Linked DNA regions of Homo sapiens. The protein of the gene in region 1 purifies or fractionates together with the protein of each later gene. This does not show direct contact. Each region holds a gene or a part of one and is shown on either strand. Other genes may lie near its edges. The genes, in order: FAM9A, NAF1 and ACAD11.

Evidence for each region.
Region 2: the proteins of FAM9A (region 1) and NAF1 purify together in Homo sapiens (affinity purification with mass spectrometry; 3 studies listed by BioGRID and IntAct, with this or other methods). This does not show direct contact.
Region 3: the proteins of FAM9A (region 1) and ACAD11 purify together in Homo sapiens (affinity purification with mass spectrometry; 3 studies listed by BioGRID and IntAct, with this or other methods). This does not show direct contact.

The regions. Positions count from the first base shown.
Region 1 is NC_000023.11:8,799,191-8,802,943, forward strand, and holds the start of FAM9A (protein FAM9A), read right to left. Parts: upstream 2,194-3,753; 5' UTR 2,121-2,193; exon of another isoform or gene 2,050-2,120; intron 1,020-2,049; 5' UTR 982-1,019; coding exon 891-981; intron 1-890.
Region 2 is NC_000004.12:163,142,889-163,146,541, forward strand, and holds part of NAF1 (H/ACA ribonucleoprotein complex non-core subunit NAF1), read right to left. Parts: intron 2,977-3,653; coding exon 2,894-2,976; intron 1-2,893. UniProt on the Homo sapiens protein: RNA-binding protein required for the maturation of box H/ACA snoRNPs complex and ribosome biogenesis.
Region 3 is NC_000003.12:132,653,270-132,656,922, forward strand, and holds part of ACAD11 (acyl-CoA dehydrogenase family member 11), read right to left. Parts: intron 1,402-3,653; exon of another isoform or gene 1,161-1,401; intron 1-1,160. UniProt on the Homo sapiens protein: Acyl-CoA dehydrogenase, that exhibits maximal activity towards saturated C22-CoA.

The DNA.
Region 1 (3,753 bases):
CCCACCCCGTGTATCCTGTGGGAGCAGGAGGGGATGGAGAAGATGCCAGTGTCCCCTCCTATCCTTCCTGGCCCGTCCAGCCCCTCCCTGGGGCTGGCTGCAGAACTCACAGCTGCCTCGCACACCTGAATGGCCCCTGCAGGATCCTTGCGGTGTCCCTGGGACAGAGCTCAGCCCTGCCCCTGTGTGCCCCAGAGACCTGCGTGGCCCGGAGGACCACGGGTGCCACAGGACCTCCCCAGCCATCTCTGGGAGAATGTCAGGGGCTGCACTGCCACTTGCCTGCCTGGATGCCCAGGTGACCCCTCGTGACCCCAGGTGTCCTGTCCTGACCGGCGGCCGGGCTGGAGGGACCCACTCGAACTGTCCCCCACAACACCCCTGCTTGTCGCCTCCCCACACACTCCGCCCCTCCTCCTCCCCTTCCCCCATCCCCTCACCCCACGAACCCCACACCCCTCCCCTCCCCTGCCCCCATCCCTGGCCCCACACCCGGCCCCTGCCTATCTGCCACTCCCCCGACCCTCCCCCCTCTGCCACCACCCCTCCCTTGCTCCCCTCTCCACCACCTCCATTCCCCCAAGCCCCCCTCCCCTGCCCCACCCCTCCCCACTGCACACATCCACAAGTCCCCGGGACAATCCCGGGCCCTGGGGATCACTCAGGTGTCTCCAGCTCCCTCCCTGCCCTGGCCCATCCCAGCCCACCCTCAGGGCCTCGCCCTGACCCAGGCCCCAGGCAACGATGCCAGGGCCATTTCCTGCTTTGAAAACCTGGGGCCTCTTAGCACGTGCATGGTGGACTCCAAAGCCACAAAGGGGCCAGGGGTCTCGGGCTGCCCATGTGCCCCCCGCGCAGAGAGCAAACAGACCATCTCCTTGGGCGTGCACCTTCTTTCGTGGCCCCCTGGGCGGCCGTAACTTGAGCTTCCAACTGAGCTTTGGCAGCCTTCCTGCTGCGCTTCCTGCCCACGGGCTCCATGGTTGGCTGTCCTGGGAAGTTAGAGGCGATCCCTGAACCTGGTTGAGTGCAAAGTCAAACTAAGTAAGCTAAGGAAACAGGATATGTGAAAGGAGAGCCAACGGGATCTCGGATTCAAGAAAGGGTGGGGCTGGCCCACCCCGTGTATCCTGTGGGAGCAGGAGGGGTCGGAGAAGATGCCAGTGTCCCCTCCTATCCTTCGTGGCCCGTCCAGCCCGTCCCTGGGGCTGGCTGCAGAACTCACAGCTGCCTCGCACACCTGAATGGCCCCTGCAGGATCCTTGCGGTGTCCCTGGGACAGAGTTCAGCCCTGCCCCTGTGTGCCCCAGAGACCTGCGTGGCCCGGAGGACCACGGGTGTCACAGGACCTCCCCAGCCATCTCTGGGGGAATGTCAGGGGCTGCACTGCCACTTGCCTGCCTGGATGCCCAGGTGACCCCTCGTGACCCCAAGTGTCCTGTCCTGACGGGCGGCCGGGCTGGAGGGACCCACTCGAACTGTCCCCCACAACACCCCTGCTTGTCGCCTCCCCACACACTCCGCCCCTCCTCCTCCCCTTCCCCCATCCCCTCACCCCACGAACCCCACACCCCTCCCCTCCCCTGCCCCCATCCCTGGCCCCACACCCGGCCCCTGCCTGTCTGCCACTTCCCCGACCCTCCACCCTCTGCCACCACCCCTCCCTTGCTCCCCTCTCCACCCCCTCCATTCCCCCAAGCCCCCCTCCCCTGCCCCACCCCTACCCACTGCACACATGCACAAGTCCCGGGGACACTCCTGGGCCCTGGGGATCACTCAGGTGTCTCCAGCTCCCTCCCTGCCCTGGCCCATCCCAGCCCACCCTCAGGGCCTCGCCCTGACCCAGGCCCCAGGCAACGATGCCAGGGCCATTTCCTGCTTTGAAAACCTGGGGCCTCTTAGCACGTGCATGGTGGACTCCAAAGCCAAGAAGGGGCCAGGGGTCTCGGGCTGCCCGTGTGCAGGTCAGCCGGCCGCTCAGCGCTTCACACCCTGGTTGCGAGAGGGCAGCATGCTCGACTTCCTGCCTCCCTACCGCGAGCGCTTCACCTGCGCTTCACACCCTGGTTGCGAGAGGGCCGCATGCTCGACTTCCTGCCTCCCCACCGCGAGCGCTTCACCTGAGGGACCCCTGATGCCGCTTCCTCACAGAACCTGCAGGCACTGGCACCACGACGCTCTCTTAGAAAAATGGGTCCTCAGTTCTCGCGAGAGCAGCTGCCCTGGCTATCCACGCTCCTCTCTGATTGGTCAGCTAAGTGCGCATGCGCATGCGGGTGAAGGACCTTGGGGGCCACGACCCCTGCTGACACGCCTTCCCTCTTTCCGTAAGGGACCACCCATATTTGCTGTGGACTGGGGTGGGTGGTGGTTCTTTGGGGCCTCTGTCCCCAGAAGTTTTCAGCGCCTCCTCCTGGGGAGGGATGCAAGGACTCGGGATGGAAGCCAAGTGGACGGGGCCTAGGACCTCGCCCCCGAGCTCCTTCCAGCCACCCCTGCCCCTTTGGCTAGAATGGCCTTCGCCTTGCAGGTGGAGCCCAGGCTCCCTCCCATGCCCTGTGTGTTTCCACCATGTCCAGCTGCACCCTTTTTATCAATGGATTGTGCTTTTATGTTTTTTGCTTGCTTGTTTGTTTGTTTTGGAGACGGAGTCTCTCTCTGTCGCCCAGGCTGGAGTGCAGTGGCAAGATCTTGGCTCACTGCAACCTCCACCTCTCGGGTTCAAGCGATTCTCCCACCTCAGCCTCCCAAGGAGCTGGGATTACAGGTGCGTGCCACCATTCTCGGCTAATTTTTGTATTTTTAGTAGAGACGGGGTTTCGTCATGTTGGCCAGGCTGGTCTCGAAGTCCTGACATCAAAGTGATCCACCTGCCTCAGCCTCCCAAAGTGCTGGGATTACAGGCATGAGCCACTGAGCCCATACCCAAAGTCGTGTCTTTAAAGGCATCAACTGTATGATGTATAGTTGTTTCCAAGAAATGATGACTAAAAGGTACTGATTGAGAAACTTTTGTCATTTCTTTCTTCAAAAAAAGTCAACTAGTTTCCTGCTAGTTCTTGCCACTTAAGTTAGCCATAGAAATCCCAGGAGTGACCATCAGGTTGTCAAAGGCCTTTCTTCTTGTTGCTGTAAGGTTGACCTGCTGATAGTAACAGATACACCCCACTCTCGGTTATTTCAGGATCAAGTAGATCCATTGGCCATGGAGTGATGGTCTTTTCAAGTCAGGCTATTTTGAGAGGTAATAAAATATTCGTGTACTTTAATTTATTTCCTTTTGTACTTGCTTGTTTTAAAATACAGTTCTGCACATAAATATTTTTGACAAGATGAACAATATAGATCTATTTTGTCACATTACAAAACAAACAAATTATTAAGATAAGTCAACAATGACTGTAAGTAGAACATTGTATTTCGTTATTAATTTTCATTAGATTTCCAAAACATTTTTCTGTATAACATATTCAGATATTTTGAATTCAGCAATGCAGTCAGATGTTTCATGTAAGTGGCTGGGTGCAGTGGCTCATGCCTGTAATCTCAGCACCTTGGGAGGCTGAGACGGGCAGATCACTGGAGGCCAGGAGTTCGAGACCACCCTGGCCAACATGGTGAAACCCCGTCTCTACCAAAATTACAAAAAAAACTGGGTGGCACCACGCCTGTAATCCCAGATACTTGGGTGGCTGAGGCGCGAGAATCGTTTGAACCCAGGAGGCGGAGGTTGCAGTGAGCCAAGATCGCACC
Region 2 (3,653 bases), on another chromosome or scaffold:
AGCTCCATAGGAGGCACCCATATCCCTTCTTGGTCATTCCACCCAACTTAGGGGATTCTGGAACTTCCATACTACCTGATTCAAGATAAAAGCAAAGGAAGTAATAGATTGTAAGGAGAGTATAAGAAACTGAATTTGGAAAAGTAGCACCTGAGACCTTTACTATGAGGTGGGCAAGCAGCTTTCTTTATATCTTTAAAACTAGTATATATTCTGTAGGTGTTCATATAAAAATTTAATCCAACTGATGCTTTATACTTGCCCTGTCATTGAGAAGTGGTTTTCTAGGTATCCTTTCACTTGGCTCTAGGTGATAATACTCACCATTTTTTACTCAAAGTCATTATATTTTTGCTACAAGATCTCCAAGGATTCCTATCACACACAGAGGTTAACACACACTGTAACAACAACGTGGTACAGCTATAATGTAGGATCTGCTGGGAAAAATAACTGACAAGCAGAGAAGATATAGAGTGCATGCAGTTCCCCAAATTCCATCCCAGCGTAGGCTGGGCTTAAATGTTCTGTGTGCACCATGGCAAAAGTTTCAGCGGCGTAGAAGGCCTGTTTGAGCCAGCAGGCTGGAGGTGCACAGACAATACAGCAAAAGGGAGAATGAGCTGTACTCTCCTCCCCCTCTCCACACACATACCATGTCACAAACTTACTAAGTTATCTAGAGGGGGCTAGGTAACTCCCAGTTTTTCTATTATCTAGGAGGGGACTAGGTAAATCCTAGTTTCTCTAAGTAACAATAAATATATCAAGGATCTCCAGGCCTAGGAACAATGCTGGCAGGCTGTGCCTGTGAAGGGCCAAGGTCTGCATGCTGCCACCTGGGAACAGCCTTCAAACAATGTCTCTCTAGGTGAGCCAGCTTTGGGCTAAACTGCCAAAGGAGAAAGGAAATGAGGAAATGAACCTTTACAACTATTCAACATTGTCTTTTATCAATCACTTTGTGCTTTTTTCAATTCCCATCAACAAAAATGAAGAAAATACAGACGAATAGAGTATTCTAATCTATTAGTTAGGCAAACTGATCATTTCAATCACTGTGTGTATTACTGTATCATAAGTTACCTTGAAATATGTCATGAGAACTGAGGGGGTGGGGAACAACACTCCATCAATATAATACAGAGTCCTCTAGAAAATCATCACATCCTACCAAACAAGACAGTAATATAATCGTTTAAAAAGGAATCAGTAAAAATTTCCTACCCACTGATATATGAGAAGGAAACAGATTTCACTAGTTCATCAAGGGAACTAGCAATTCTTAGGATTAAAGGGCAAAGGTAGGAATAAAAATCTGAGACTGTCCTCCCTTAATCAGTGGGGAAGGCAAAGGGAGGTGGAAGGGAAATGAACCTGGGCTGTAAACTCATCCATTTCAGCTTTGTGACTTTTTAGCAAGGTTTCTCAAGTTTTAAAATAGAGGTAATTTTACTTCCTTGCAGGGTTTCAGTGAACTTAAAAAGATAACATAAATATCACTGTAGCTGATTACTATCGTGTTACTGAAGAAAAGAGGGAAAAGATGTTCGATGGCTTGCTACTGAAGGTAAAACTAATTTAGTATTTAGATAAGACATGCTAATAATCTAAAAGGTACTCAGTTTCATATTCTGGTTATTGGTTTGTTTAACAAATACTTTCTAATCTCTACTCCCACTACTATTTTGGAGAATCATTTCAAGGCACTTAGATTTATAATCAAGTATTTTTTAAAAACTTGTCACAAAGTCTTTCAAAAGCATTTATAAAGCATTCTATGTAAAATTTAGAAATAGATTTAATTTTTGCCAACAGGCTTATGCCATATAACTAAAGTTAGAGGTGTAAATGTTATATTTTATCTGACTCCTTTCAAATCTAAATGACAGCTGAATATTAATATTAGTCACATTTACAGGTCTAGAAATTCAAATGTAGTGGGAAATACAAAAAAAATGTCTGTTTAGAGGTTTTAATTTAGCAAAGTGTTGAGTATTTTCAGATTAAAATTGTCTAAGTTAGGTACTAAGAAAAAAAGACAACTGTCATGAAAATCACAAATAGCTCCTTTCTTATTTGTTTGTATTCAACTCAATACACATTTACTTGGCACAAATAATTTACAAAGAACTGTACTAGATACAATGGGGAATATCAAGGTGAATAAAACTGTCCCTATTGCCAGGAAATAAATACTTACTTAGTATTTACATTCTTGATTTTAGAATGTTTATGTCTTCTGCCAACCAGTCAGAATTGCCTAGTTGCTGAGTAAAGTGCACAGTTTTCTACATTAAGGTGGACATGCAGGGTTGTTCCATTAGAAAGATGTTAAAAGGGACCAAATCTTATAGTAATTACTTGAATGCACATATTTGTAATTCCCCAGGATGTGCCTACAGTGACAATTCATTGCTGTCAGTGAAATATTTTTCCACTTGGAAAAGATTCCACACCGAGCTTCCACCTGAGGAAGTCAAAGTCTGAAAAGTCTGAGAGCCACTATTCAAAGGAGCTCACAAAACAAAAATGCTTAAGAGCTACTATACTATGGGAAGTCTTCTTCACTCAGCTGAGTATCTGGACGGTAGGAAACGATGTGTTATGCATTACGTAGACTCACTGCCTAGCAAGTTATCTGACAAACACTAGGAAAGAATTCTATATATGTGTATTTAATAACTCATGTGGCAAAGAGTAATAATCAGTATTAAACCAATTTACAGACAGATATGAAGTACTAAAGGAAATCAAGAACGTACTGAAATTAGAGAGCTCTAGATTGTCCATCAATTAAAATAAATAAACTCTTCTGAGAACTGATGGGGAAAGTCAGAAAAAAACAATAAATAAATAGAATAATTTGTAAGATTTGAAATGTTTTACAAACCTTTCCTGCTGCTTGTCGATCACTTTTAAAAATTACAGTCTCCTCATTAACTGGAGGTAGGTTAGTCATAGATTCAATTATTACTGAAAAATAAAATAGATTACTTCAAGATTTACTTATAAGAGAATGTAGAATTTTAATGAAAATCTAAGCTTTAATTCCAACATAATTTAAAAAAAAATTGAAGGTGGGATTATTACCTCATTAACCATTTTCTCTTCAGTAAACAAAGTCTACTTATTACCAAATAGCACTGGGAAATGTTTTTATACCTATTTTTAATACAAAAAGCTATAATTCTAAGGGAAAAAAATTAAAATGCAAATCCCACAGAAAATCTGAATCATCCATTAAAGATTCAACAAATTCAAGCTATGTACATATTCTCAAGTAATTTTTACCAAAAATAGTGTAATCACGTTTAGTTGTAAAACTGTTTTAGAAGAAATTAGTCTTCTTTCTCACTCTTAAAAATTCTTTTCTACAAAGCACTGTTTAGTTACTGGTATATGAAAAAGTTAAATAAAAGGCTTCACAAAAGCATCTTCCTATGAACAGAAGAAGTAAAAGTGCTAGAGCTCACAGTAATTTTTATCATTACATGAAAATTCCCTCCTCAAAAAGCAAAAACATAATCTCCAAATCTCCAGTTCTTTTAAATGACACAAATATTAAAGAACTGATCTACCATAACAAAGAGAAAACACACGCACACACAAACACACTCTCAATAAGTTTTTAGAACATCAGAGCCACAAGT
Region 3 (3,653 bases), on another chromosome or scaffold:
ATTCTCAGCTAATTAATTACCTAGGTTCCTATTTCAACGAGCAAATAGGAGCAATCAGATGAGAACTTCCACAAGCTTACACTACTGTATCTACTGCATACAATAATCTGTACACATATATTCTGTCTTCCCTCCAAAGTCTGCAGAAGGACGTGCACATTTCTATCTAAGGGCAACCCCTTCTCTTGCATATTAGAGTCCTGCCTTCTTAAGGACTTCTTTCCAGGCCTCTCTCCTACACAAAATTTTCTCTTCTAGATTACTGTCATCAGCATACAAATATGATGTTATTTTTTAAAAAGCTTTCTCTTGACCTCACTTCCCCCCTACTTAAAACATTTCTATTTCCTTTCGTAGAAAAACTCCTCAAGAGATTACACGTCCTCCTCCTATCTTCTTAAACCCATTTCAATCAAGCTTTCATTCCCTTCTTTCCATTAATACTACTTTTTCAAGATCACTAATACAAACCATGGTTTTCCCCCACCTCTTTGGCCACTTCTTCTAAGACTCCTTTGTAGGTTTCTCTTAATTTGCTAACTTCTTAATATTGGGGTGCCTTGGACTCAGTCTCCAAACCTCCTTTTTATGTGAACTATTTTCTAAGTAAGACCTTCGATCTTATGTCTTTAAATATCTTCTTTTTGTCGATGGCTCTCAAATTTATATGTCTAGTCCAGATCTCTGCCCCGACCTCAAGACATAACCAACTGCTTACTATACATATCTACTTGGATGTCTAAAAGGCATCTTGAAACTTAACACTCCAAAACTGAGTTCCTCAAATTTCCCCCTCAAATCTGCTTTTCTATAGTCACCTACATTTCAGTTCACAATAACCCTATTCTTTCAGTTACCAAGGCAGAAATGAAATAATCTTCGTCTCTTCCTTTCCTAGCCCACATTTAATCAGTTAGTAAACCCTTCAAAATACAGTCATGCATTGCTTAATGACAGGGATGTGTTCTGGAAAATATGTTGTTAAGTGATTTTTGTCACGTGTAAACATCCTAGAGTGCACTTACACAAACCTAGATGGTATAGCCTATTATGCACTGATATATAATTATGTTTTATGATCATAAATGTCTCATAATGGAGTCACTTATGACAAGTGACTCAGCTTACAGTGAAATCACTGACCACTCAGAGTAGTAAGCATATGTGTGGTGGACTGAGGTGATAAGATAGCATCTGCTGTGGCCAGGCATCCCTGACACCTGACAAGAAAGTAAAGCCAAAAGTCAGCTGAAGATAATGGCCATGGAGATGTCTGTGGAGAGCCGTAAAAGCCAATCATGGCTGAGATGCCTGCAGAATCTCTGCCCATGAGAACTCTGAGGCCTCCTTTCCTTTGGCTGTGGTAAGCCCTCTGGGAAAAGAGCAGCTACCCACCACCAGGTCAGTGGGCATTCTGAGGAAAACCAAACCTGGTTTTCTCAGTCAGTGTGCTGGTCTCCCAGAATACTTGCTGTGTTTCCCTTCTCTATTAATGCCTATGTGTGTTGGATAGAGTTACATGATTGTTGTGTAGAAGCCACACAATAAATCGTGAATTCCTAAGCATTTAATTGGCACTGATTCGTTGTGAAACTTCTCAGCTGGTTGGAGTTAGCATAAATAGGCTGATTTGAACCCGATAGGACACACCTGAGCTCTGTGGTACAGCCTGCTGCTCCTAGGCTATAAACCTGTGCAGCATGTGACTGTACTGAATACTGCAGGCAATTAATTGTAACAAAATGATAAGCATTTGTGTATCTAAACACATTTAAACATAGAAAAGGTACAGTAAAAACACAGTATTATAATCTAATGGGACCACTGCCGTATATGCAGCCCGTCATTGACCAAAACGTCATTATGCAGCATGTGACTATATACTTACACTATGACCACTTCTTACCCATTCTACACTCCCACTCTGGTCTATGCCACTGATATCTCCCTGCTGGAACACTGTAATACATTGGTGTCCTTGCTTCTGCCCTTGGCCCCTTCAGTCAACTCTCAACACAAGAAGCAGAGATTCTGTTTTTTTTGTTGTTGTTGTTTGTTTGTTTGTTTAAAGATTACTTCCCTCCTCTGCTCAAGCATGTTTTAAGTCTCTCTCCATCTCAATTCAAAGTAAAAGCCAAAGTCTCTTTATTGCCTGACAGGGTCCCTGTTGCCCTTGCTTACACTACTTCAGGCATTTGGGCTGTGTTTCCTCAACACACTGGGCACACATCCCTTCCAGGGCCTTTGCATTAGCAGTCCCCTCTGTCTGGAACACTCTTTTCCTGGATATTTACATGGCTCACATTTTCATCCCCCTTCAAGTCTTTGCTGAATGCCGTGTGCTCGAGGAAATCTTCCTGCCCCACACCCAAACATTTCCTATTCTCTTTTCCTCCATGTTACATATCAACTTCTACATTGTAAAGTTCAGAAGCTGATTTTCCTGTCTGTCTTCTACAAATACAATGGAAGTTCCAGGGAGGCAAGATTATTGTTACATCCTCAGTGGTTGATACAGTGCCAGATACATATTAGGCACTCAGCTGCAAATCACAAGTTTTGTTGTATCAAGCTATATAATACTTTCATTATTGATTAATTCTAAATATTTTATCTTTCCAATAAGATTTAATTTTTGCAAATTTTAAAAGTAAATCTTGCAGATAAAAAGAGTATTTATGAAATTGGTAAGGCATGAGGAATAGTAATGCCACAAACACCATTTTCACTACCCGGAGAAAATTACTGTCTTTGAAACCCTGTATGTCCTTCCCCTTGAGTGACTACCATTCTGAATTTTATATTTATCATTCCCTTGAAGTTTATCTCTGTATATAATATACTGTTAATTTCTTCACGTTTTTCATTCTGTGTTATGTACAGCTGTAGCTGAATCATTTTCACTGTTGTATGCTACTCCATTATGTGAATATACTGCAATTTATTCATCCATTCTGTATCTATAGACATTGTGTTGTTTCCTGGATTTTTGCTATTACAAACAGTACAATGAACATCTTTGTAGATTGTCCCCTTATACTGTAGTACAAGAAAAGTCTCAGGAGTATGTATCTATGAGTAGAACTGCTAGGTCATAGGTCATGTGTATCTTCCCAACTTCATTTTTACAAGATCATGTTGAGTTATTTTTCAATAGCAGCTATACTAATTCACACCCCTATATGAGTCCCTGTTGCCCCATATCCTGATGCTTGATATTGTCAGATTTTTTTTTTTTTTGAGACGGAGTCTGCCTCTGACTCACCCAGACTGGAGTGCAGTGCTGTGATCTCAGCTCACTAAAGCCTCTGCCTCCCAGGTTCAAGCAATTCTCCTGCCTCAGCCTCCCGAGTAGCTGGGATTTACAGGTACCCACCACCACACCCAGCTAATTTCGTATTTTTAGTAGAGACGGGGTTTCACCATGTTGGCCAGGCTGGTCTCGAACTCGACCTCTGGTGATCCACCTGCTTCAGCCTCCCAAAGTGCTGGGATTACAGGCATGAGCCACTGCACCCAGTCTATTGTCAGATTTTTTAAAAGTCAATTTGGTGGTGTGAAATGGTTTCTCATTGTGTTGTTTTTTTTTTTTTAATTTGCATTTCCCTTATTACTACAGTATAATAAAGTTGAGCATCATCAAGTTTTCGCCC